2 separate regions of the Homo sapiens genome follow, and region 1 is linked to region 2. Evidence: fine-mapped expression QTL. A gene starts in region 2. The other region holds a variant in brackets. All regions are shown on one strand. Distances are between the middles of the regions.

Region 1 (4,501 bases), 57 kb after region 2:
GCCCGCTTCACCTCTTACTGTCACTCGCCGGGGACTCTGCGGCACCTAGCCCAGGTACTCCGGCAGCCCAGAGGGAGCTCGTCCCCGACAACCAAGAGGAAAAGAGGGGAAGCGAGAAAGACGGAGACCCGCCATCGTGGCCAACGACCCCGTGAAGAGGGAACGGCGGTCCACGCACGGGACCCAGCCTCCAATCAAGCCCAGCAGGCGCCAGCCGGGCACGCCTAGTGCTGGGGCCCGCGGGCCCGCGTCCACCCGGAACCCGCGCCGGCCCAGGAGCGCCGCGCGCACCCCTGGCTCCCGCCCGCGCCTCTCTTTTCACACTTCCCCGGGAGCAGAGGGAGCCGGCTCCGGCCTCGGCCAGCCCCAGAGAGGGGCCCTCATAGCTCAGCGGCGGGCCGAAGGGCTCCTCGAGCGGCCAGAGCGGACGTCGAGGCCGAGGAGGCGCCGAGAGCCAGCGAGGGCTGCTAGCAGGTTGTCACCTCTCACCATCGGGCCTGTGTGGGTTGGTGGAGTCCCTCCCCTGTCACTGCAGACGGAGCACAGGGAGAGCGTGGCAGCCAGCAGGGTGGCTCAGTTGCCAGGCGCCCACACGAAGCACTTGGCTCTGTTCACAGGGCTGGTCTTGATAAGAGAAAGCAAATGTCCTGCGGGCCATGCAGGCTGGGGGTGAGGCTGCCAGGCTGCCAGGCTGCTCCTGAGACCAGTAGCCCCTCTGGAAGCATCCCCTGAGGGAGAGACCAAACAAGAGGAGAACCCCGCCCTCAGGCTGCTCCGGCACCTTCAGGCAGACAGGGCAGGGCTGACCAGGCAGGATCGTCATCCCCAGGGCTGTGGGCAGTGACTCGTCACAGCAGCAGACAGAGTGGCAATCTCTCGACTGTCCCCAGAGCCCTGCACGGTGTACAAAGGCTGTGCCTTTCCAGGTTCCATCCCACACCCAATACCCAACTCCCCCCTTTTTTTTTTCCGCTCTGTCACCCAGGCTGGAGTACAGTGGCGTGGCCATAGCTCACAGCAGCCTTGATGAACTCCTGAGCTCAGGAGATCTCCCGCCTCAACCTCCCAAGTAGCTAAGACTACAGGATCAAGCCTAGCTTATTATTACTATTATTATTATTATTATTATTATTATTTTGGAGAGACAGGTTCTCACTACGTTGTTCAGGCTGGTCTCAAACTCTTAGCCTCAAGCAATCCTCCTGCCTCGGCCTTCTGAGTGACTGCGATTACAAATGTGAGCCACTGCGCCGGGCTCTTTGTCATTTCTGTTCTTTTGGATCTATCCTTAAAGCAGGGTGTGCCCAGCTCAACAGTGCCTGAGGACTGCCCCCTCTGCCTGAAGCCACCGCCTCCTCGGAGGCCAGGCTGACTGCTGCTTTCATTCCAGCTCCCTTGGACTTGAGGGGGCTCCTAGTGCCTCCTCAGACCGATTTCTAATCTGGTAGCTGTTTGCAGGCAACTTTTGGAGGGTGGGGTGGCTCTGGCCTGCAGACGCAGAGGTGCTATGCAGTGAGATCATCGTCCTCATATTTTAATTCTTTAGACATGCTTTCCTTTAGTTTATTTAGCATGTTTTAAACAACAGATTTAACGTCTCTGTCTAATAAATCCAGTCTCTGGGATATTTCAGGAGGTTTCTGTTGATTTCTCCCCTGTGCATGGGCCATAATTTTTTGTTTATTTGCATGTCTGGTAAGTTTTTGTTAATAACTGGACATTTTAGGTAACATAATGTGGCTACTGTGGAAATCAGATTCTCCCTTTACCCAGGTTTTGTGGCTGCAGTTTTGTTTGGTTAGTGACTTCTCTGGACTAATTCTGGAGTCTGCTTTCTGTGTTGTGTGTGGACCCTGCAAACTCCATTCAGCAGTGCGGTGGGTGGCTAATGATTGGACAGAGATGGCCTTCGACGCCAGAGCTTCCCAGTCCTTGCCAAGGGCTCTGTGGGGTGATGGGGGTACCTTAAACACTCAGCCAGACCAGCAGCATCTCTGCCCTAGCCTGCACTTTCTGCTGCTCAGAGCGTCAAGGTCACCCAGAGGTGAGATCTCAGCTGCCCCAGGTCCTTGCTGAGCACTTCCACAGCCCAGGAATGTGCACAGCCTCCCGGGTGCCTGGGAACGTGCACGGCCTCCTAGGAGCCCGGGAACACGTTGGAGCCTCTGAACGCACCTCTGCACTTTTCACCGCCCAGTTTTTCCTCCTAAGCCTTTTGGTGAGCCCAGTGTCTGCTCCAACGGCCATGTGCCTCCTCAGCCATGAAATTAGGCAATTTCTTCCACATCATTTTTGACAAATCCCCTTGAGAAAAAGGCTTTTCTTA[C/T]GGGGGGAGCTCCCAGGCAGGTCAAATGAGGGCAGGCTTGCAAGTAGGGTTCTCCAGGGAACCGCCAGACGGCGAAATAACGACAGTTCTCAGGATTAAGCCTTCGAAGGAGCTCCAACCCCGATCTGCCACTCCCGGCGCTTCCAGGCTGCTGGGTGTTGATGTGATTGTGGCTTTTGGTTTTCAAGGCTCCCGCAGGAGCTGAAGAATACAGTGGATACCACTCAGCAAGAGAGGAACAAACCACGACCACACAGAGACACGAATCTCAAAATAACTGCGGAACTCAAGAAGCCGGACCAAAAGAACACATTCCACGTGACCCATTCATCTACAGCTCTAGAAAATGCAAACTGATCTATGGCGACAGAAAGATGGGAGGCTGCCTGGGATGGGGGCGGGGCGGGAGAGAGGGAGTATCTAATGGGGCTTGAAGAACCCTTTGAGGGTGATGATGGAGATGTTCGGTATCTGATGTGAGGACAGTTTCAGGAGTGTAGATGGGAGAACTTACCAAATGGTACACTTGAAGTAGGTGCAGTTCATTGTATATGAATTATATCTCAATGAAGCTGGGTTTTTTCATGAAAAGATGACCTGGATCTCTCTCTACCTGCAAACATCTGTCTCCATCTCCTTCTCCTGGCTTCCCCCAGCTCCAGTCTGCCTGCATCCAGAGTTGGCAGGACCCTGTCTCTGTGTGAGATGGCAGCTCCCAGTGGGTCCCTGTGGACACGGCTCTGCCCTTGCCCACCTCTGCCTGCACAGCTCCCCGGCAAGAGTGCCCCCCTTGCCCTTGCCCTGGTGAACACCTACCGACTGCCAGCCAAGCCCGTGCGCAGAGCCCCTCCTGCTCTCCCTGTCCAGGGCTCGCCTCTGGTTGTTCTGGAATCCTCTGTGTATGAAACTGCTTCTGTCCGCAGCAGGTGGCTTTGGAAGGGCACTGGGATGCGGTGGCAGCAGCCGGGCTTCCGCATCTGCTGTTGAAACAAACTCAGCAGCAATCTGGAAACAATCTAGAAGCCTGGCGGACGTCCCGCACCTGTGTTCGGTGGGGGCTGTGCGGTCCTGGCCGCAGCCTGGAGGGGACAGGCCTAGCTGAGGGATGAGCACAGTCCGCTGCTCTCCTTCCTGCCTCTGCCTCTCTCCTCTATGAGCCCCTGCCCATGGGTGAGGAGGGCCGGACGGTTAGCAGGGGCCCCATGGGGAGGCCCCACAGCCACCAGACCCCTGTCCAGCCAACTCCTCCCCTTCAGCCATCGCACCCTGGCATGGCCCCAGAATGCCCTCCTGTTGGGACAGCAAGGGCTGGGGCCTGGAGGAGCCTTTCCAAGCAGGAGGAGGGAGGCACCACCATGGGGCCTCCTCTTTCCACGGCCCTCCCTCCCCACGCTGGTCTGCACCTGCCCTAGAGACCAGAAGCCGGCCAGGCCTGTCCGCAGGTCTGTGTAGCTGGCCCAGGTGGCTGGCGGCCAGGCCAGGGCTGGCCTATGGGTGTCTGGCCCGGCTGGCCACCGGCCACCTTTCTCCCACTGGCCTTGGCCACAGCCCCACAGCTGGCGCGACGCTGCGACCTTTCCCCTACTTCCAGCTCTGGCCTCCAGATCATTCCAGGCCCCTGAAGTTTACATGAGTCACATGTCGCTGGCAGACTCCCACCCCGTTCCCTCTTCTTGCTCTGGGTTTAACGGGCCACACTGGAGAGCAGGCATGGGGCCTTGTGCCCCTGAGCAGGGCCAGGTGTGGGACCAGAGCCTTCGTCGTGCCCAAGGCCTGCAGGCCTCAGAAACCCCAGCCCCACACCATGCCGGTGCTCCCAGCTTTCCCTGAATGTCATTCGTCATGAGGGCTGAGGTTCAAGGACCCACTTACTCTGGTGGCCACTTACTCTAGAGGCCTGAGTACGCCAGGCTGTGAAGCTCTGCCAAGTACCTGGGAATCTATATCCATGCGGGGCACCATCTCAAACTGCATGAGTCAGGTGGGCAGGCGTGCATATGGGCGAGTCAGGTGGGCAGGCGTGCGTATGGGCGGGTCAGGTGGACAGGCATGTGTATGGGCAGGTCAGGTGGCCAGGCGTGCGTATGGGCGAGTGAGGTGGGCAGGCAAGTGAGGTGGGCAGGCGTGCATGTGGGCGAGTCAGGTGGGCAGGCGTGGGTGTGGGCGAGTCTGGAC
Region 2 (4,225 bases):
CTTTGGCACCACCCTGATGACTTGTACCCTATTTGGGACCATCTGTGCTGTTATTGACTAGCATTTTTCTTAAATTAGCGTGCTTAGAAAACATAATTGATTTGGCAGGGCGCGGTGACTCATGCCTGTAATCCCAGCACTTTGAGAGGCCGAGGCGGGCAGATTGCCTGAGGTCAGGAGTTTGAGACCTGCCTGGTCAACTTAGTGAAACCCCATCTCTACTAAAAATAGAAAAATTAGCCGAGCGTGGTGGTGGGCGCCTGTGATCCTAGCTACTTGGGAGGCTGAGGCAGGAGAGTCGCTTGAACCCAGGAGGCAGAGGTTGCAGTAAGCTGAGATCACGGCACTGCACTCCAGCCTGGGCAACAGAGGGAGATTCCGCCTCAAAAAAAAAAAAAAAAAAAAAAAGGAAAAGAAAAAAATAATAAATGATTTAAACAGGAAACTAGTGGTAAGAACAAACAACAGGCTGCATGGATCCAGTGCTGGGCCCGGGGTCAGAGGACAGAAACTGCGAAGGGCGGTCTCAAGTGAGGCTGCCGATTCCGGTCCCTGAAGGCCTTGGACCAGGGCACAGAGGAGGGACTGCTGGCTGCAGGAGGGCCCTGTGACCTCATGCTGCTCCTCACTTCACCTCCTTCCCTTGGCTTCCACGCTTCCATTGCTTCCGACCTCGGTGTCCCCGTCTTCTGTCTCCTCCACTGGCTCTTCCTCCCAGCCTTTCTGTGTCGGAGGCTCCTGGATCCAGCATGGGTCCCATCCTCTTTCCTTCCTGCCTTCTCATGGCTTTAAATGGCCTCTAGACGTGGGCGGCGCCCAGATGTGAGCTTCAGCCCAGACTTCTCCCTTGCACTCCAGCCTCGTACCCAGGAGCCCACCTGATTCATGGATTTTTATCTCCCATACATCTTGAGCTTAGCACGTCCAAAACAGACTCTCGTTCTCCCCCAAATCTTCTATGCCCCAGGTCTTCTGTATCCCAGGGGATGGCAAATCATTCCTCCAGTTGCCCAGCTGGAAACGCTGTAGTCATCCTTGATTCTCTCTTTCTCTCACACCCCATATCCAATTTTCAGACAATCCTGCTGGTCCCACCTTCAAAGCATATCCAGAATTCGGCCACTTCCCACCACCTCACTCTATTGCCCTCGGCCTGCATCATGGCAATGGCCTCCTACCTGGTCCCCACCACGCAGCAGCAGAGAACTATTTTAAAATGTGAGACCCTGTCACTACCCTGCTCCAAGCCCCTCCAAGGCGTCCCCACCTAGCCCAGAGGGAAAGCCACAGTCCTTACGGAAGCCGGCAAGGCCCTGCTCAATCCGCTCCCCTGCGCCCACTATCTCTGACCGCAGCTCCCGCCTCCCTGTGCCCCACCAGCCACCCGGGTCTCCTCAAGGGTCACAAAACACACCAGGGTCCCTGCCTCAGGTACAGTCCCACCTTCGTGGCCCCTCATCTCCTTCAAGCCTGAAAGCCTCGCTCCTCCCCGCCTCCCCAGGGCCTGCCTGCTTTACCTTCCAACCAGCCACACCATTTACTTGTTTTTGTATTGCCCGTTACCCCAACTAGGAAGGCGAGGAGTTGTGTCTGTTCTGTTGACTGCCCTGTCCCCGGCGTCTGGGGCCGCGCCTGTCCGAGGGTCAGGTCCGACGCTGGGCATGTGGGGACTCAGTGAGCGGACCCTGGGAAAGACGGCAGCTCGGGAAGGACAAGTGGGGGCCGTCGCGGTGGAGTGGTGCCCGGGGCCGGCCCGGGGCGCGCGACTGCACGGGCAGCGTGGGGCGGCCGCGCGGGGAAGTGGCGCCCGGGAGGCTGCGGGGCACAGACATCGCGGAGCCCCAGGGACTGCCGCCGAGGGGACCGCGGGAGCTGCGAGGGCAAGAAATCCTAAAAGCGCGCGGCCGCGGTGGGCCAGGAGAAGGGACATTCCGGAGACGGCTCTCGGGGGAAGCCACGGGACTCGGGCGTGACAGCCTGCGAGAACCGAGAGGTGAGACGCGCGACCGGGGAGCGCGGCGACCGGCAGAGGCGCCCCCGCCGGGCGAGCGCAGGGGCAGCGCGGGGCGCTGGGGCCGGAACAGCGGGCAATGTGGGCACGGGGCGCGGAGGCCTGAGTGAGCGAAGAAGGAGGCGGCTGTACGGCCGGGGCTCGTCGCGAAGGGGATGGCCGGGGACGGCGGGGACGGCGGGGGCGGCGGGGGCGGTGGCGGGGCGCGAGCGGGGGCGCTCTCGGTGCGCGCGGAGGTTGGCGGGTGCGCGCCGCAGCCGCAGCGCTCCCTCTCCTGTCAGGGCAGGCGCGTACGGCCGCGAGTCGGGCGCGCAGCCCCGGGAGCGCAGTCCCGGGCGCAACCTCGCGGAACGCGCGGCCCCCGCCCCCCGCCCCGCGCCGCTCGTCCCCGTCAGCCCCGCCCCGGCGCTCTTCTCGCCGACCAATCAGGAGGCGCGACCGGCCTCCCAGCCCCGAGGCCTCGCCCCCAGCCGGCGCATCGCCAGCCAATGAGCGGCCGAGCCCGGCGCCCAGTGCGCGCAGCCCGCGCGGAGCCGGCTCAGAGCGAGAAAAGCAAACCCAACCCGTCGGGGCCGCCGCTCCGGACCCGCAGCCGCCGCCGCCGCCTCCTCCCCCCGGATCGGGTGTACTGTCCCAACCCGAAAGTCCAGTTCTGCGGCCCGGCAGCGGCGAGCGGGCGCGATGACACAGGAGTACGACAAGTGAGTGAGGCGCAGGAGTCCGGCCGCCGCGGGGGGGCCGCGCTGAGGGGCCGCACCTGCAGCGAGCGAGCCGGGCGCAGACCCGAGGCCGCGCGGGCGGGCGGGCGCGGGGCGCGAGCCGGGGGCCGCTGTCCACTCCACGCCGCCACGGCCTTTGCCCCTTAGCCCTGCCGTGCTCTTTGTTCGGTCGGAGCCTCGGGAGGAGAGACCCTGTCCTCGGGGAAACTCGACACCGGAGGGGCCACCCTCCTCCCCTCCTCCGCGGCCAGGTTGGGTCCCCTCGGGCGCGCACCTTGGGGTCCGGGCCCCCGGCGCGGTCGGGTGCGGCGCGAGGTCGGGGCGCAGCCAACGCCCCCGGGCCTCCCCGCCCCCCTCTCCTGCCCGGTCGGCCTCGGGAGCCTGGTGGGGCTCGCGCCGCGTCGGGACAGGTGGACTTCTCCAGGTAATCTGTGGTCTCAGGCTCGTCACTCGGCGACCTGCTGGAACCTCCAAAACAGAAATGTAGGGAAAGGTTGAAGTGCCCCGATGTCCGGGCGTTTTCTTTTCCCTGGCTGGCGGCATGAGTGGGAAAACGGCTGTAGGAGTTATTTTGCCACTTGCATCATTGATGGTAATTACAGATTACCGTGTTTTTAGTGCTCGAGAGAATCAAGAGGATGAAACTTTGAAATCCGGGTGTTAAACGAGAAAGTACTGTACAAGCTAATATGCTTTTTAGAGTGTGTGATTTAAAAGCGTATTTCGACAAATGTGAGGTGGTAGTGTAATAAGGCATGGGGGATTAACTGGGCGAGGGAGTTTTCTGTATTTTCTTTGCAGCTTTTCTGAAAATATAAAATTGTCCTAAAAATTTTAAAAACTTACTAAAGAAAAAACAGGGAAATCGCACCAGGCCAGTCAGTATATTTCAGATCAGGAAGTTTAAGGCAGATAGGTACCCCTCCCAGTTTCTTAGTTATTTGTGAAGGATCGGTTTTTGTCAGTGTGTTCTTTTTCTGGATGAGATAGATATTTTGTATGGAGTATCTTAAATGGATTACTCTTATGTTGTAGAATATGCAGTTAAATTATTGCCTGAAACATATTTCAGAAGTCTGAGAGATCGCAGACGCGGAGTTTAAGGCTCACCTGAAAGTGATGATGAGCCTTCGGCGACTGAAGCCTACTTCCTGACTGTCATGAGGAAGTGGACTAAGAAAGGCAACTGGTTTTGTGTTTATTTCTTGACGTATAGTTTAGATAAGGCAAATTTTCCAAAGCTAACATTTTGGCCTTAGGCAGGCTTTGGAAATATGAAACACCTTCAGGGTGATTCCAAACATAAAGCCATTTCTTTCTCTGTTTTCTATTGCTTGTACAAATTTGGGATGTGGGTGGGAGAAGAAGGGAAGTTGAAAACTAGCATTAAGGGAATTGAACAGCCAAGTGCTGTCATAGTCTTCTGGAAGTAGCTATTACGCTATTAATTATAGCTTAGCAGTACATCAGTCAATCAGTCCATGGCACCAGCCGT

Alleles and levels. Alleles are on the strand shown, and positions count from the first base shown. SD is a standard deviation of normalised expression in the study named.
With allele C in place of T in region 1, the expression in lung of the gene that starts at base 2,552 in region 2 is higher (small effect, 0.28 SD a copy in GTEx).

Evidence for each region. PIP is the estimated chance that this variant, and not a neighbour inherited with it, causes the effect.
Region 1: its variant is the best candidate, but not a certain one, in a credible set for the expression of GRHL1 in lung (GTEx, PIP 0.83).

The regions. Positions count from the first base shown.
Region 1 is chr2:10,006,250-10,010,750 of GRCh38, forward strand. No RefSeq gene overlaps it. Among named protein-coding and RNA genes, the nearest start is that of KLF11-DT, 35 kb to the right of the region's middle. The variant C/T (reference allele first, on the strand shown) is at 2,327.
Region 2 is chr2:9,949,142-9,953,366 of GRCh38, forward strand. GRHL1 (grainyhead like transcription factor 1) reads left to right here and starts at 2,552. Exons shown (of 16, transcript NM_198182.3): 1 at 2,552-2,712. The coding sequence starts at 2,693. It overlaps LOC105373422 (a long non-coding RNA gene), which reads right to left and starts at 1,712. Exons shown (of 3, transcript XR_922784.4): 1 at 1,564-1,712. RefSeq lists silencers at 1,783-1,862, 2,013-2,062, 2,163-2,212, 2,303-2,842.